Homo sapiens: one gene and its partner. Changing the gene in region 2 together with the main gene of any one other region gives a genetic interaction. Each region holds a gene or a part of one and is shown on either strand. Other genes may lie near its edges.

Region 1 (7,000 bases), on a different chromosome or scaffold from region 2:
GCCTCGGGCCAGTAGGGTGGCCTGGACCCAGCTCATGCCTCTGCTTGTCAGACAATCACCTGGCCCAAAAGAAGATTCAGCATTAGCCTGGCACCTTACAGATGCTAACAGACGCAAGGGCCCCGCAGGGTCGAGGGCACACTCCAGATTATGTGGCTCACTCACCAGCCCCAATGTTTACCTTACCCAAGAAACAGGCTGATGACTCAAAGACTTTGTTCTTGGGACAGCACCCTAATCCTGCTGCCCCAGGGGCGTGATCATAGCTCAATGCAGCCTCCAACTTCTGGGCCCAAGTGATCCTCCAGCCCCAGAGCGTCGAGAAGCTGGGACTACAGACGCGTGCCACCATGCCCAGCTAATTTGAAAATAGTTTGCAGAGACCCAGGGTCTTGCTGTGTTGCCCAGGCTGGTCTCGAACTGTTGGCTTCAAGTGATCCTCCCATCTCTGTCTCCAAAAGTGCTGGGATCATGGGTGTGAGCCAGCACTCCTAGCCACTACAATCTAATTTTACAAAATCTGTGTCACTCCAACAAGAATCCCTGTACCTGGCCAGGCGCGGTGGCTCACGCCTGTAATCACAACATTCTGGGAGGCTGAGGCGGGCGGATCACTCGAAGTTGGGAGTTCGAGACCAGCCTGACCAACATGGAGAAACCCCATCGCTACTAAAAATACAAAAAATTAGCCGAGCATGGTGGCGCACGCCTGTAATTCCAGCTACTGGGAAGGCTGACGTAGGAGAATTGCTTGAACCCAGGAGGCAGAGGTTGCAGTGAGCCAAGATGATGCCATTACACCTCAGCCTGGGGAACAACAGCAAAACTCCATCTCCAGAAAAAAAAAAAAAGAAGAAAAAAAAAAAAGAAAGAAACCCTGTACCCATTAGCACTCAATTTCCCTTCACTCCCAACCCCAAGAAACCACTCATCCACTGTCTCTATAGATCTCCCTATGCCGGCCATTTCATACAAATGGAATCTGGAATCACAAGTGCTCCTTTATGATTGGTTTCCTTCACTTGACATGTTTTTTTTCTTTTTTCTTTTTTTCTGAGATGCAGTCTCGCTCTGTCACCCAGGCTGAAGTGCAATAGTGCCATCTCGGCTCACTGCAACCTTCGCCTCCCGGATTCAAGCGATTCCCATGCCTCAGCATCCCGAGTAGCTGGGATTACAGGTACATGCCACCACGCCCGGCTAATTTTTGTATTTTTAGTAGAGATGGGGTTTTATCACGTTGGCCAGGCTGGTCTCGAACTCCTGACCTCAAGTGATCCGCCAGCCTCAGCCTCCCCAAGTGCTGGGATTACAGGCGTGAGCCACCGCACCTGGCCCACTGACGTGTTTTCAAGGTTCATGCATAGATTTTTTTTTAATTTTTATTATTTTTATTTTTAGACAGGATCTTGCTTTGTTTCCCAGGCTGGAGTGCAGTGGCACAATCTCAGCTCACTGCAACCTCTGCTTTCCGGGCTCACGATTCTCCTGCCTCAGCCTCCTGAGTAGCTGGGACTATAGGTGTGTGCCACTGCATCCAGCTAATTTATAGATTTTTTTGTAGAGATGGGGTTTCGCCATGTTGCCAAGCTGGTCTCAAACTCCTTACCTTGTGATCCGTCCGCCTCAGCCTCCCGAAGTGCTGGGATTATAGTCGTGAGCCACCGCACCCGGGCTTTTTTTTTTTTGAGATGGAGTTTCATTCTTGTTGCCCAGGCTGGATTGCAATGGCATGATCTTGGCTCACTGCAACCTCTGCCTCCCGGGTTCAAGTGATTCTCCTGCCTCAGCCTCCCAAGTAGCTGGGATTACAGGCACCCGCCACCATACCCAGCTAATTTTTGTATTTTTAGTAGAGATAGGGTTTCACCATGTTGGCCAGGCTGGTCTTGAACTCCTGACATCAAGTGATCCACCCACCTTGGCCTCCCAAATTGCTAGGATTACAATCATGCCCGGCCAATTCCACTGTTTTTGGAATGGAATATAACCAGGTTTTGTATGGCTATAACCATATTTTATTTATGCATTCATCAATTGATGGACATTTGGGGTTGTTTGCCAAATGTTTTTGACTGTTATAACTACTACTGCCATGAACATTCGTGTAGAAGTTTTATGTGAACACATGTTTATACTTCTCTTGGGTATATACTTAGGAGTCAAACTGCTGAGACATATGGTAACTACATGTTTAACATTTTTAGGAACTGCCAGACTGTTTTTGGGGATGACTGCACCATTTCACATTCCCATCGGCAACGTACAGTTGACCCTTCATCAACAAAGGCTTGAACAGCATAAGTCCATTTATACGTGGATTTTTTTTTTTTTTTTCAGTAAAAGTTATGGCTGTACGTGGTGGCTAACGCCTGTAATCACAGCACTTCGGGAGGTCGAAGCAGGCAGATCACCTGAGGCCAGGAGTTCGAGAGCAGCCTGGCCAACATGGGAGAGACCCTATCTCTACTAAAAAAACAAAAAAACAAAAATTAGCCAGGCTGGGGGCACACTCCTGCAGTCCCCAGCTACTCAGGAGGCGGAGGCAGGAGAATCACTTGAACCCAGGAGGCAGAAGCTGCAGTGAGCCAAGATCGTGCCACTGCACTCCAGCCTGGGCGAAAGAGGAAGACTCTGTCTGAAAAATAAGAATAAGACCAGGTGTGGTGGCTCACGCCTGTAATCCCAGCACTTTGGGAGGCCAGGCAGGATAATCACTTGAGGTCAAGAGTTCAAGACCAACCAACCAACGTGGCAAAACCCCATCTCTACTAAAAATACAAAAATTAGCCAGGCTCCTTTTGCCGGTGGCGGCAAGCATGGAGAGGATGCCATGAAGGCCTCGGGCACACTACAAGAGTACAAGGTGGTGGGTTGCTGCCTGCTCACTCCCAAATGCCACACACCACCCCTCTACCACATGCGAATCTTTGCACCTGATCATGTCGTTGCCAAGTCCCACTTCTGGTACTTTGTATCTCAGCTAAAGAAGATGAAGAAGTCTTCGGGGAGACTGTCAACTGTGGGCAGGCATTCGAGAAGTACCGCCTGCGGGTGAAGAACTTCGGCATCTGGCTGCGCTACAAACTCCCAGAGCAGCACCCACAACATGTACCAGGAATATTGGGACCTGACCACCACGGGCGCTGTCACCCAGTGCTACCGAGACATGGGCGCCCGGTACCCCACCTGGACCCATTCCATCCAGATCATGAAGATGGAGGAGATAGCAGCCAGCAAGTCCCACCGGCTGGCCGTCAAGCAGTTCCAAGACTCCAAGATCAAGTTCCCGCTGCCCCACCAGGTCCTGCGCCATCAGCACAAGCCACGCTTCACCACCAAAAGGCCCAACACCTTCTTCTAGGGGTAGGGCCCTCACCCAGGTGTGCCCCACGTAAACTCAGGAACGCCCCGGTAAAAAAAAAAAAAATTAGCCAGTCATGGTGGTACATGCCTGTAATCCCAGCTACTCAGGAGGCTGAGGTGGGAGAATTGCTTGCACCTGGGAGGCAATGTTACAGTAAGCTGAGATCGCGCCACTGCACTCCAGCCTGGGTGACCGAGTGAGACTCTGTCTCAAAAAAATTAATTAATTAAATTTAATTAAATAAAAGTTACAACTTTAAACACTGAGGGGCTAGTAAAAAGAAAAAAGGTCGGGCACGGTGGCTCACGCCTGTAATCCCAGCACTTTGGGAGGGTGAGGCGGGTGGATCACGAGGTCAGGAGATCGAGACCATCCTGGTTAACACGGTGAAACCCCATCTCTACTAAAAATACAAAAAAAATAGCCAGGCGTGGTGGCAGGCACCTGTAGTCCCAGCTACTCAGGAGGCTGAGGCAGGAGAATGGTGTGAACCCGGGAGGCGGAGCTTGCAGTGAGCTGAGATCCCACCACTGCACTCCAGCCTGGGTGACAGAGTGAAAGAAAAAAAAGTTACAGCTGAATGTGCCTGCCTCTCCATCTACCTCCTCCACCACCTCTTCTGCCTCTGCCACCCCTAAGACAGCAGGACCAACCCCTCCTCTTCCTCCTCCTCCTCAGCTTACTCAATGTGAAGACGATGAGAATGAAGACCTTTATGATGATCCACTTCCACCTAATGAATAGTAAATTCAATGTGTTTTCCTGATTTTCTTAATAACATTTTCTTTTCTTCAGCTTATTGTAAGATTATAGTATTATATATATATATAACATTAAAAAATATGTTAATCACCCTTTCCCTGCCACTGCCGAGTTGCGCGGAGGCGGAGGCTTGGGTATGTTCAAGATTCAGCTTCACCCATAACCCACTGCCATGGCCGAGGGAGGCATTGCTGCTGGAGGTGTAATGGATGTTAATACTGCTTTACAAGAGGTGCTGAAGACCGCCCTCATCCACGATGGCCTAGCACGTGGAATCTGTGAAGCTGCCAAAGCCTTAGACAAGCGCCAAGCCCATCTTTGTGTGCTTGATCCAACTGTGATAAGCCTATGTATGTCAAGCTGGTGGAGTCCCTTTGTGCTGAGCACCAAATCAACTTAATTAAGGTTGATGACAACAAGAAACTAGGGGAATGGGTAGCGCTCTGTAAAATTGAGAGAAGGGAAACCCTGTAAAGTGGTTGGTTGCAGTTGTGTAGTAGTTAAGGACTATGGCAAGGAGTCTCAGGCCAAGGATGTCATCCAAGAGTACTTCAAATGCAAGAAATGAAGACATAAATCTTTGGCTCACATAAAAAAATAAGTTAATTGACTGTTATGTAATCACTGAGACCTCTGGACAACAGTGGGCTATTAGTAGTTAAGATTTTTTGTTTTGAGACAGGATCTCACTCTGTTGCCCAGGCTGGAGTACAGTGGTATGATCATGGCTCACTGCAGACTTGACCTCCCAACTCAAGCAATCCTCCCACCACTGCCTCCTGAGTAGCTGGGATTACAGGTGTGCGCCACCACACTCAACTAATTTTTACAATTTTTATAGAGGCTGGGTTTCCCTCTATTTTCCAGGCTGATCTCAAACTCCTGGGCTCAAGCAATCCTCCCACCTCGGCCTCCCAAAGTGCTGGAATTACAGAGGTGAGCCACTGCACCTGGCTGGATTTTGGGGGTGTCAAAAGTAGCCTGGCAGGGTGGCTCACGCCTGTAATCCCAGCACTTTGGGAGGCCGAGGTGGGCAGATCACGAGGTCAAGAGATCGAGACTATCCTGGCCAACATTGTGAAACCCCATCTCTACTAAAAGTATAAAAATTAGCTGGGCGTGGTGGCAGGCGCCTGTAGTCCCAGTTACTCGGGAGGCTGAGGCAGGAGAATCGCTTGAACCCAGGAGGTGGAGTTTACAGTCAGCCGAGATTGCGCCACACTGCACTCCAGTCTGGATGACACAGCAAGGCTCCGTCTCAAAAATAAATAAATAAATAGAGCACCCCACTGAAGGCTGGGCACAGCGGCTCATGCTTCTTATCCACTTTGGGAAGTCAGAGTGGGAGGATCACTTGAGCCCGGGAGATCAAGAACAGCAAAAAGAAAAAAAAAAAAGAAAGAAAAAAAATACCAGCTGGGTGTGGTGGCACTCATTTGTAGTCCCAGCTACTCAGGAGGCTGAGGTGGGACGATCACTTGAGCCCAGCAGTTCAAGGTTATATGAGCTATGATTGTGCTACCACACTCTGGCTTGGGTGACAGAGTGAGACCCTATCTCAAAAATAAAAAAATAAAAAATAAAAAGCACTCTGGCCAGGCGCAGTGGCTCATGCCTGTAATCCCAGCAATTTGGGAAGCCAAGGCGGGTGGATCACAAGGTCAGGAGTTCAAGACCAGCTTGGCCAAGATGGTGAAACCCCGTCTCTACTAAAAATACAAAAATTAGCGGGACAGGGTGGCGGGCGCCTATAATCCCAGCTACTAGGGAGGCTGAGGCAGGAGAATCACTTGGACCTGGGAGACAGAGGTTGCAGTGAGCCGAGATTGCACCACTGCACTCCAGCCTGGGCAACAGAGTGCAACTTCATCTCAAAAAAAATAAATAAATAAAAATAAACATAAAAAGCACTGCAATGACTTTCATATGCACCTAGGATTAAGACCTTAATTTAAATTTTCAGGGCCAGGCTCGGTGGCTCATGCCTGTAATCCTAGCACTTTGGGAGGCCATGGTGGGAGGACTGGTTGAGCCCAGGAGTCCAATACCAGCCCTGACAACATAGCCAGACACTGTCTCTATAAAAAAATTTAAAAATTAACCAGGCATGGTAGTATACACCTGTCTGTGTTCTCATTCCTTGGGAGGCTGAGGTGGGAGGATCACATGAGCCTGGGAGGTCCAAGCTACAGTAAACCAAGTTCATGCCACACACTCCAGCCTGAGCAACACAGCAAGACCCTGACTCAAAACAAAAAAACAAAAACAAAAACAAAAAAACTACAGCTACTTAAAGTGTGTTCTAGGGACTGGCAGTGTCAGCAACATTTGGAAGTTTATTAGAATAGCAAAATTTGGCCGGGCATGGTGACTCACGTGTGTAATCCCAGCACGTTGGGAGGTCCAGGCCAGCTGATCACCTGAGGTCGGGAGTTCGAGACCAGCCTGACCAACATGGAGAAACCCTGTCTCTACTAACAAAAAAAAAAAAAAAAAAATACAAAATTAGCCGGGTGTGGTGTATGCTTGTAATTCCAGCTACTTGGGAGGCTGAGGCAGGAGAATTGCTTGAACCTGGGAGGCAGAGCTTGTAGTGAGCCAAGAGCACACCATTGCACTCCAGCCTGGGCAACAAGAGCGAAACTCCATCTCAAAAAAAAAGCAAAATCTCGGCCCTATCCCAGACCTACTGAACTGGAATCTGCATTTTTTTTTTTCCCAGGCGGAGTCTTGCTCTGTCGCCCAGGCTGGAGTGCAGTGGTGCAATCTTGGCTCACTGCAACCTCCGTATCCTGGGTTCAAGCAATTATCCTGCCTCAGCCTCCCGAGTAGCTGGGATTACAGGCACATGCCACCATGCCTGGCTAATTT
Region 2 (7,125 bases):
TGCAGGACAATGAAGATGATACCAGCACGACTGCTCAGAAACTGCCAGGTCTGAGCAATCTCATATTCAAAGATACACCAGCGGCTCTGGATGAAGTGCTGGGACACCACAACAATCACCTTTCGGCTTTTATGGAAACCTTCATGGATGATGTTGGCAGCAATGGCCACACCGGGAATAAAGTCTCTGTAGTGAAGGCAGAGCTGAAATGGAGGCACCCCTTCTTCTAAATTCTTTACTAGCTCATTCCTTACCCAGTCCTCATCCTGGCTTGAGTAGATAACAAAGGCATCATAGATGTTTTCACCTCTACCATACTTTATGCAGCCAGCAAGAAGCATCAGGTGAAAATAGAACTTATAGACCAGAACTGCTACAACAGATACTACAAGCACACTGAGGACCGACACACCAATGATGGTCTTATTCATCTGACAGGTGATATTCAAACTCAGCACAGGCATGCCCTGCTTATCTGAAGGTGTTGCACATTCCATTCGTTCAACTTCCACCAAGAGCTGCCTCTGGTCCTTGATCCATTGCAGGAAACTCTGGTGTTCACAAGTACAAGCAAAGTCATTCTGAGTAAGATTTAAGAAAGCTAGACTACTTGGAAAATGCTGTAGTTCCTGTTTTTTGGAAGTCATTATGTGATTGAGACTGTAATCAAGAACCTGGAGGGAGTTCAGACACTTATAAGGAAACGTATCCAATGAAAAGAAGTTGTTGTGGCTCATATTTAGTACCTGAAGACTGGAGAGTGAGTTAAATGCTGTTGGAGACAACTGCTCCAGTTGACACTGAGAGAGGTCCAGGAAGGTCAAGTTTCTCAGCTCTGTGAAGATATCTGGAAGGAAGTTTTCCTGGAAAGAATTGCCAGCCATTTTCAAGACTTCGAGACTGGACAAGCCATTGAAGATGCCATTGAAAGCAACTCTGGTGTGAGTATGAGAAATGTCAAGGTAAATGAGGTTTCTGAGTGATAGGAATACTGAAAACTCACTCATTTGTTTCAAATTGGAATGCTGGAAATCCAGATGTTCTAGTTGTTCTAAGCCCAAGAAGTTTGAACTCATGGTAATAACACCATTGAAGCTCAGATCTAAATACTTTAGGCTGGTTGTCCCAAAATCACTTTGAGAACAGCAACCTTTGAAACTCAAGCCATTTCTACTGAGATCTAGAAACTCAAGGCTTGGTAGATCAACTTCTGAAAAAGCATTCCCACCTTTGTTGGAAGTGAAAGTAAGCCTTTTGAGAGATTTGAGTTTCAATGTGGGAAACTGTCCAAATTTACAGTTAACTAATTCTAAATGTTGCCATCCGAAATTATAAGAAAAGTCTTTTACCCTTTCAATAGTCACACTCACCAGGGAAAATGAAGAAACATTTGTCAAACAATTAAATAAGTCAATAATATCATCGAGGTAGTAGTCTAAGTATGCTAATCGGAATTCTTCAATGGTCAAATTGCACAGGCCCTCTAGAGCAGATTTGTCAAACTTTTCCAAGTTTCCTTCATTTCTAAATTCTCCCAGAACCAAACGATGGACTTCTAAACCAGCCAGACCTTGAATACAAGTTTTCATTACATTTAAACTATCAAAATTATTTCTTAAAGTCAGCTTATGAAGCCTAATTTCTTTAAATGCACCTGGTTGGATAAAGTTCATAGGGTTCAGGGACAGGTCTAAAGAGAGATTGAGTAGGGGCATTTGATGTAGAACCCGCAAGTCTGTGCAATAAATACTTTGAATCTTGTTGCTGGAAAGGTCCAAGTGCTCTAGATTGGTCAGATTAGAAAAATACTCAGGTAATTTGAAAGATTGGATAAGATTGTGAGCCACATTAAGTTCTTTCAAAGTTTTGAGATGTCCAATGGGGAAGTTCTCTAGAGATGCTAGATTTGTCTCCACAGCCACCAGCTTCTGTAAACTTGATAGTCCAGAAAAGGCTCCCAGGGCTAAACTCTGGATGGGGTTTCCTGTCAATATTAAGGTAGAGAGGTGGCTTAGGCTCTGATATGCCCCATCTTCAATTGTCTGGATTTCACACCTACAGGAATAAAAAGACATTGATTATCTAATATTTCTGCTGAATAAGAACCTAAAATAGAATATTAATCCTAGTCATCCAGCTCTTCATACAGATGTGATGGGTCATATGATTGTGCATAGGCAAAGACATCAAGCAGGACAGATGATGATGGAATAAGCAAATAAGAAGCCCCACAGACTGAGTATTATCATACTGGCTGCAATGATAGGCTCTTTTTTGTCATGTTAGGCATACATGATAAGCAGAGGAGAAAATCCATAAGAAGGAAATCAGTTAAAGATCAATAATTGACATATATAAAGATTGTGCAGTTGATAAAGCATGTAATAGCCTTGGATCAAGTTTAGCCATTTTCTGTCACACAAAATTGTGATTATACATCTGATTGGTACAGATAATATGGATAGTTGTTAGTTGGTAGCCAAGATAAATGACTGGTAAATATCAATTTCAGAGATACGAAAAATTACACATAAGTGTCACAGATACTCTTAATGTTTATGAAAAGTGCTTACATGACAGCTAGATATTTGAAAGTTCTTGTTATCAGAGGTAAATGCTTGTAACAGGTGATAGGAGCGAGTTTTGTGGAAAAAAGTGAAAATTATGTGCTATAAGAGTTCACATCCAGAGAACCGTTGTGGACCAAGAAAATCAAAGTAGGTTTCTCTGAGAACACTTAAGTTGAAAATTGAAAGATGAGTAGAAGTTAACAATAAAAGGAGGTGAAGTGAACAGCAAACACAAAAGCCCCAAGGTTGACAGAAAAAAAATGACACAAGGAGGAATCATGACAAATAGCTTCCATGGTTGGAGAACAGAGATGAAATTGGAGTGTACAATATGGAGTTGTGGAGAAAGAAGGTTCCCAATTAGGCAGAGGTTTACCAACCAGATAAAGGGTTTTGAATTTTATCCTAAAAGAAATGAAAGCCATGCTACACACAATGTTCAGAGACATGTCCTAGAGACAGGGCTTTGATGCAGCCAGCAAACAGCAAGCCAATGAAAAATTCCTTTCAGCATTGCAGGTGCTTGTCAGTTACAATGTACAAATAAGTTCTTTCTTAATCCAGCCTGAATTACATTTACAATATTCCCCACCCATTTTATTTAGCTTCTTCAGGAGTTTCCTAGACAATAAAAGCATTGTGGTCCAAGCTTTTGTTATTTATTGGTAACTAGATAAAGGATAGGCAGTATAGTAGAAAGAACGCTGGAAGAGTGGACAAAAGAGCTTGGGTTTGGTGTTTCTGCAGTCCTCTCCTACTGTGTGATCTTGAGTACCTCTTTTCCTCTCTAGGTTTTAGTTATCACATTTATAAATCAAACAGCTGAACTTGATTATTTTTGAAGTTCTTTCTTTCAATTATATGATTGTTATAGCCCATCATTCTATCTCTGCATTGCTCTATACATTAGGTGAGAAGGAAAGGGTCTTGCTGTGTCTCTATATCATTACATTGGTGATAATCACTTTAGAGAAGTAGAGTATTAAGACAAAGAAAACATTTAAGTTGGATTCTGGAGATGTGAACTTAAATCTCTGGTCTGTGGCTAACAAGCAATGATAATGTATATAAGTCATTTAAATTATTCAAGCTTCAGTTTCCTCACCTATAAAAAGAAATATATATATATTTCTATAGGGGAAAGAAGGCTGCCTGGTCTATCACAAAGCATTCTTACAAGACTAGTTGAGTTACTGTATGTGAACACTGTACGAAAAGGCAAAGGATGTCTATTGTGCTATCTTTTGTGCTTGCCCTAATTCAGAATCTCCTATGGGTTAACAAGAAGGGAAGCTGGCCTCTCTGTAAGCACAGATTTAAGGTTTCTGGGGCAAGTTTATTGGGTATCCAGTGGATTGAAGATGAATTACATAAGAGACATTGTTTGGTGAAAAACTACTTCTTGTTTGAAAAAAAAAAAAAGGGAGAGGTGGTCTACCTTAATAGAGTACTTGACAAAATTTTCATGCAGGAAACTGAAATTTAGAACATAATGGCATAGATGCAGCTAGTAGCCATTATCCTAAGCAAATTAACAAAGGAACAGAAAGCCAAATACCATGAGTTCTCACTTTATAAGTAGGATCCAAACATGGAGTACACATGGACATAAAGATGACAAAAATAGACCCTGGGGATTACTAGAGAGGGGATAGAGAGAAAGCAGCAAGGGTTGAAAAACTAACTATTGGGTACTATGCTCACTACCTGAGTGATGGTATCGATTGTACCCTACACCTCAGCATTACGCAATATAACCATGTAAATCCCTGAATCAAAAATAAAAGTTGAAATTATTTTAAAAACCTAATGAAATTCTGTAAGAATACTTTATGCTTATAAAATATATTTTATAAAAATTTAAATATATACAGCATATTAATATTTATTATCACATTTAATCCAGCAGAATAAGTTTCATCATTTCCATTGATCAGATATGAAAACTAAGATTAAGGGAGATGAAGTAATATGCCTAAGGTTACATGGTTATAAAGGTTGGGGGTAAACTTGGCTCAGGTCTTCTGACCCCAACAGGACTCTATGCACTATACCACTGCCTTTGAATTGTTCCATTACTCCTTTGTTACATCCTATCTATATCCAAATTAGAGTATAATAGGTCGTATGCTCACTCTTCTACAGAAATGTCTGCTCTAAAAAGGATTTTTATACTGTGACCTTAGTCTTTATCAATAATTTCTATAATAAAAAATATGTAAAATGTTTTGAAATGTTTTACAAACCATTGCAGAGAACATGATCCATTATCTAGTTCGATTTGCAAATAAGGCCCCGATGATGAAAACCCTTTTAGAATTTGGTTCCCCTAAAATATCAAGATGACATTTCACCTGCCACAACAAACGATATACTTCCCTGCATCAGAAAAGAAAATCTTAGCCATTATTCCCTGCCCACAGCAGATGTTTTCCTTTAATCTTGACATCTTTCTCCTTGGGTTACTTGTCTTTTCCTAATTCCCTATCCTGTACACTAGTTTTAATATTCTAGACATTGTTTGAATCTTATGCAGTTCATGAAATCTTTCTTGACTACCCACCACAGAGAAGGCCCCTCTTCTGAAAAATACAATTAGTTACCTTTAGTTTAAACATAATTTATCACCTACTGTTATATGTCGCTATCTTTATATCAGTTTCCAGATCCAAAAAATCATAATTAAAATGTGTTGACTATATACTATGTACCCAGGACCATACCCAGGACTTTAAGGTATTAACTCTTTCAAGAAGATATGCCTCCTTAACAACAGGGGCTGTGTGTTATATATCAATATATGCCTGTCTTCTTGCAGAGTGTACAACATATAGCAAGTAGTCAATAAATAGCTGCTTATGAAAGAATTTAAGCTAATTTTCTCTCCTGTCTTAAAAGAAAACCTAAAATTAGAATTGCCCTTAGAAGCTGTCTCAGCCAACTGCCTACTTCACAGATTAGAAAACTGAGACCTGGAGAATAGAGGTAGCTTGCTCAAGGTTATATAGTTAATAAGACATCTGTTGTATGAATGAATAAGTGAATGAAGATGAGACTCCACAAACCAAGCTTTCCAGTCCAATAATGAAATGACAGGACAATGAACACCTCACCTTGTGCAGTATGTAAAAGTGGATTCATTACCTGGATAAATCCAGCACCTGCAGTTCTGGGAAACTGAAGAAGCTATAGCTGCCTAAATGCCTCAGGGGATTAAAGCTCAGGTCCAGGTTCTTGGTTGAGAAGGGGAGGTTGTCGGGGATTTTGTAGAAATTCAGCTCCATGCATTGATAAGTAATATTAGGAACCACCTGCAATGATTACACATGACATGAAGTATCTTTACTGCATGGTCTCCCAACTCCCCTCTCCTAGACCAGAGATGGTGGAGAGGGGCCTCTTTTTGTGCAAGCACAAAATTCAGTCAACCTTTCATCCATCTGTCCATCCTTCCATCCATATATCCATCCATCCATTCACTCAATTCATGCTTATAAATTGTCTTACTCTAGATTAGAAAGTAAAGAGCACCTACTACGTGCTCAGCATTCTAACCTCCGTGATAAAACGGCAGCATTTAGCAAGAAGCAATGGAATCGGGGTGAAGGGCTGAGGCTCCGGAGTCTGAAAGCTCTGGGTTTCATGCCAGCTCTTCTGTGTGGTTTAGGGCCAAGTCTTTAAAAACAAAACAAAATAAAACGAACAAAAGAAAAACCTCAGTGAGCCTCATTTTATCATATGTAAAATGTAGGTAATAAAATATCCAATATCGTGCTTGCTGCAGTAGCACATACACTAAAATTGGAAGGATACAGAGAAGATGAGCATGGCCCCTGCACAAGGATGACACACAAATCCATGATGCGTTCCATATTTTCATGATCTATGCAGCAAATCACCATGGCACACATTTACTTATGTAATAAACCTGCATGCTCTGCACATGTGCCTCTGAACTTAAAAGTTGAAAATACAAAAAATAAATAAAATATCCAGTATCATTTTAAATACTCCATATCATTGGGGAGACTGTCTGGCAGTCAAGATGTCCAGACCTTCCTTAGTCATGGCCCAGATTTTGACAACTGCATTCTTTTTCTTGGCTCATTGACCCTTGAGCAAAGTGATGTAGAAATAGGGGGAAATCTTTAGAGTGCATGGATTCCCATGGTGGAACCTAGTAAATAAGGTCAAGTGCTTTATGCTGTCTTTGTTTTTACACTGCTTTCTAGCCTACTTTCCCACATTCTTTGTAAGCCTAATTCTCTAACGCTCCCATCTAATTTCTGAATGCTCTCATTTCCTCCAACAAAATTCCTTGCAGAAGCCAGCTAATTGTAGTTTTCTGTTGTTTGAAACCAATAGAATGTTTGAAGGATTAAATGAGATAAGGTGTTTAAAGAGTTTATTTAAAAGCCCGCTACAGTATAAGTGATCAATAGATGTCAACATTAATTATTATCATCTATCATTAATCCCTTACCATATGCCTGCATAGTTCTTGTTTGTTATATACTTTCACTTAATCTTCAAATAAGCATTTAAAGATGAGGAA

The links. Genes that interact genetically often act in the same process or in processes that back each other up.
Region 1: of TLR4 (region 2) and ECSIT, changing one suppresses a phenotype caused by changing the other (phenotypic suppression), as found in Homo sapiens cells (one study listed by BioGRID).

Annotation. Positions count from the first base shown.
Region 1 is NC_000019.10:11,519,135-11,526,134, forward strand, and holds part of ECSIT (evolutionarily conserved signaling intermediate in Toll pathway, mitochondrial isoform 1 precursor), read right to left. Parts: intron 4,720-7,000; exon of another isoform or gene 4,222-4,719; intron 3,417-4,221; exon of another isoform or gene 2,797-3,416; intron 60-2,796; 5' UTR 37-59; coding exon 1-36.
Region 2 is NC_000009.12:117,707,319-117,714,443, reverse strand, and holds part of TLR4 (toll-like receptor 4 isoform A precursor), read right to left. Parts: intron 6,246-7,125; exon of another isoform or gene 6,126-6,245; intron 5,882-6,125; coding exon 5,715-5,881; intron 2,056-5,714; coding exon 1-2,055.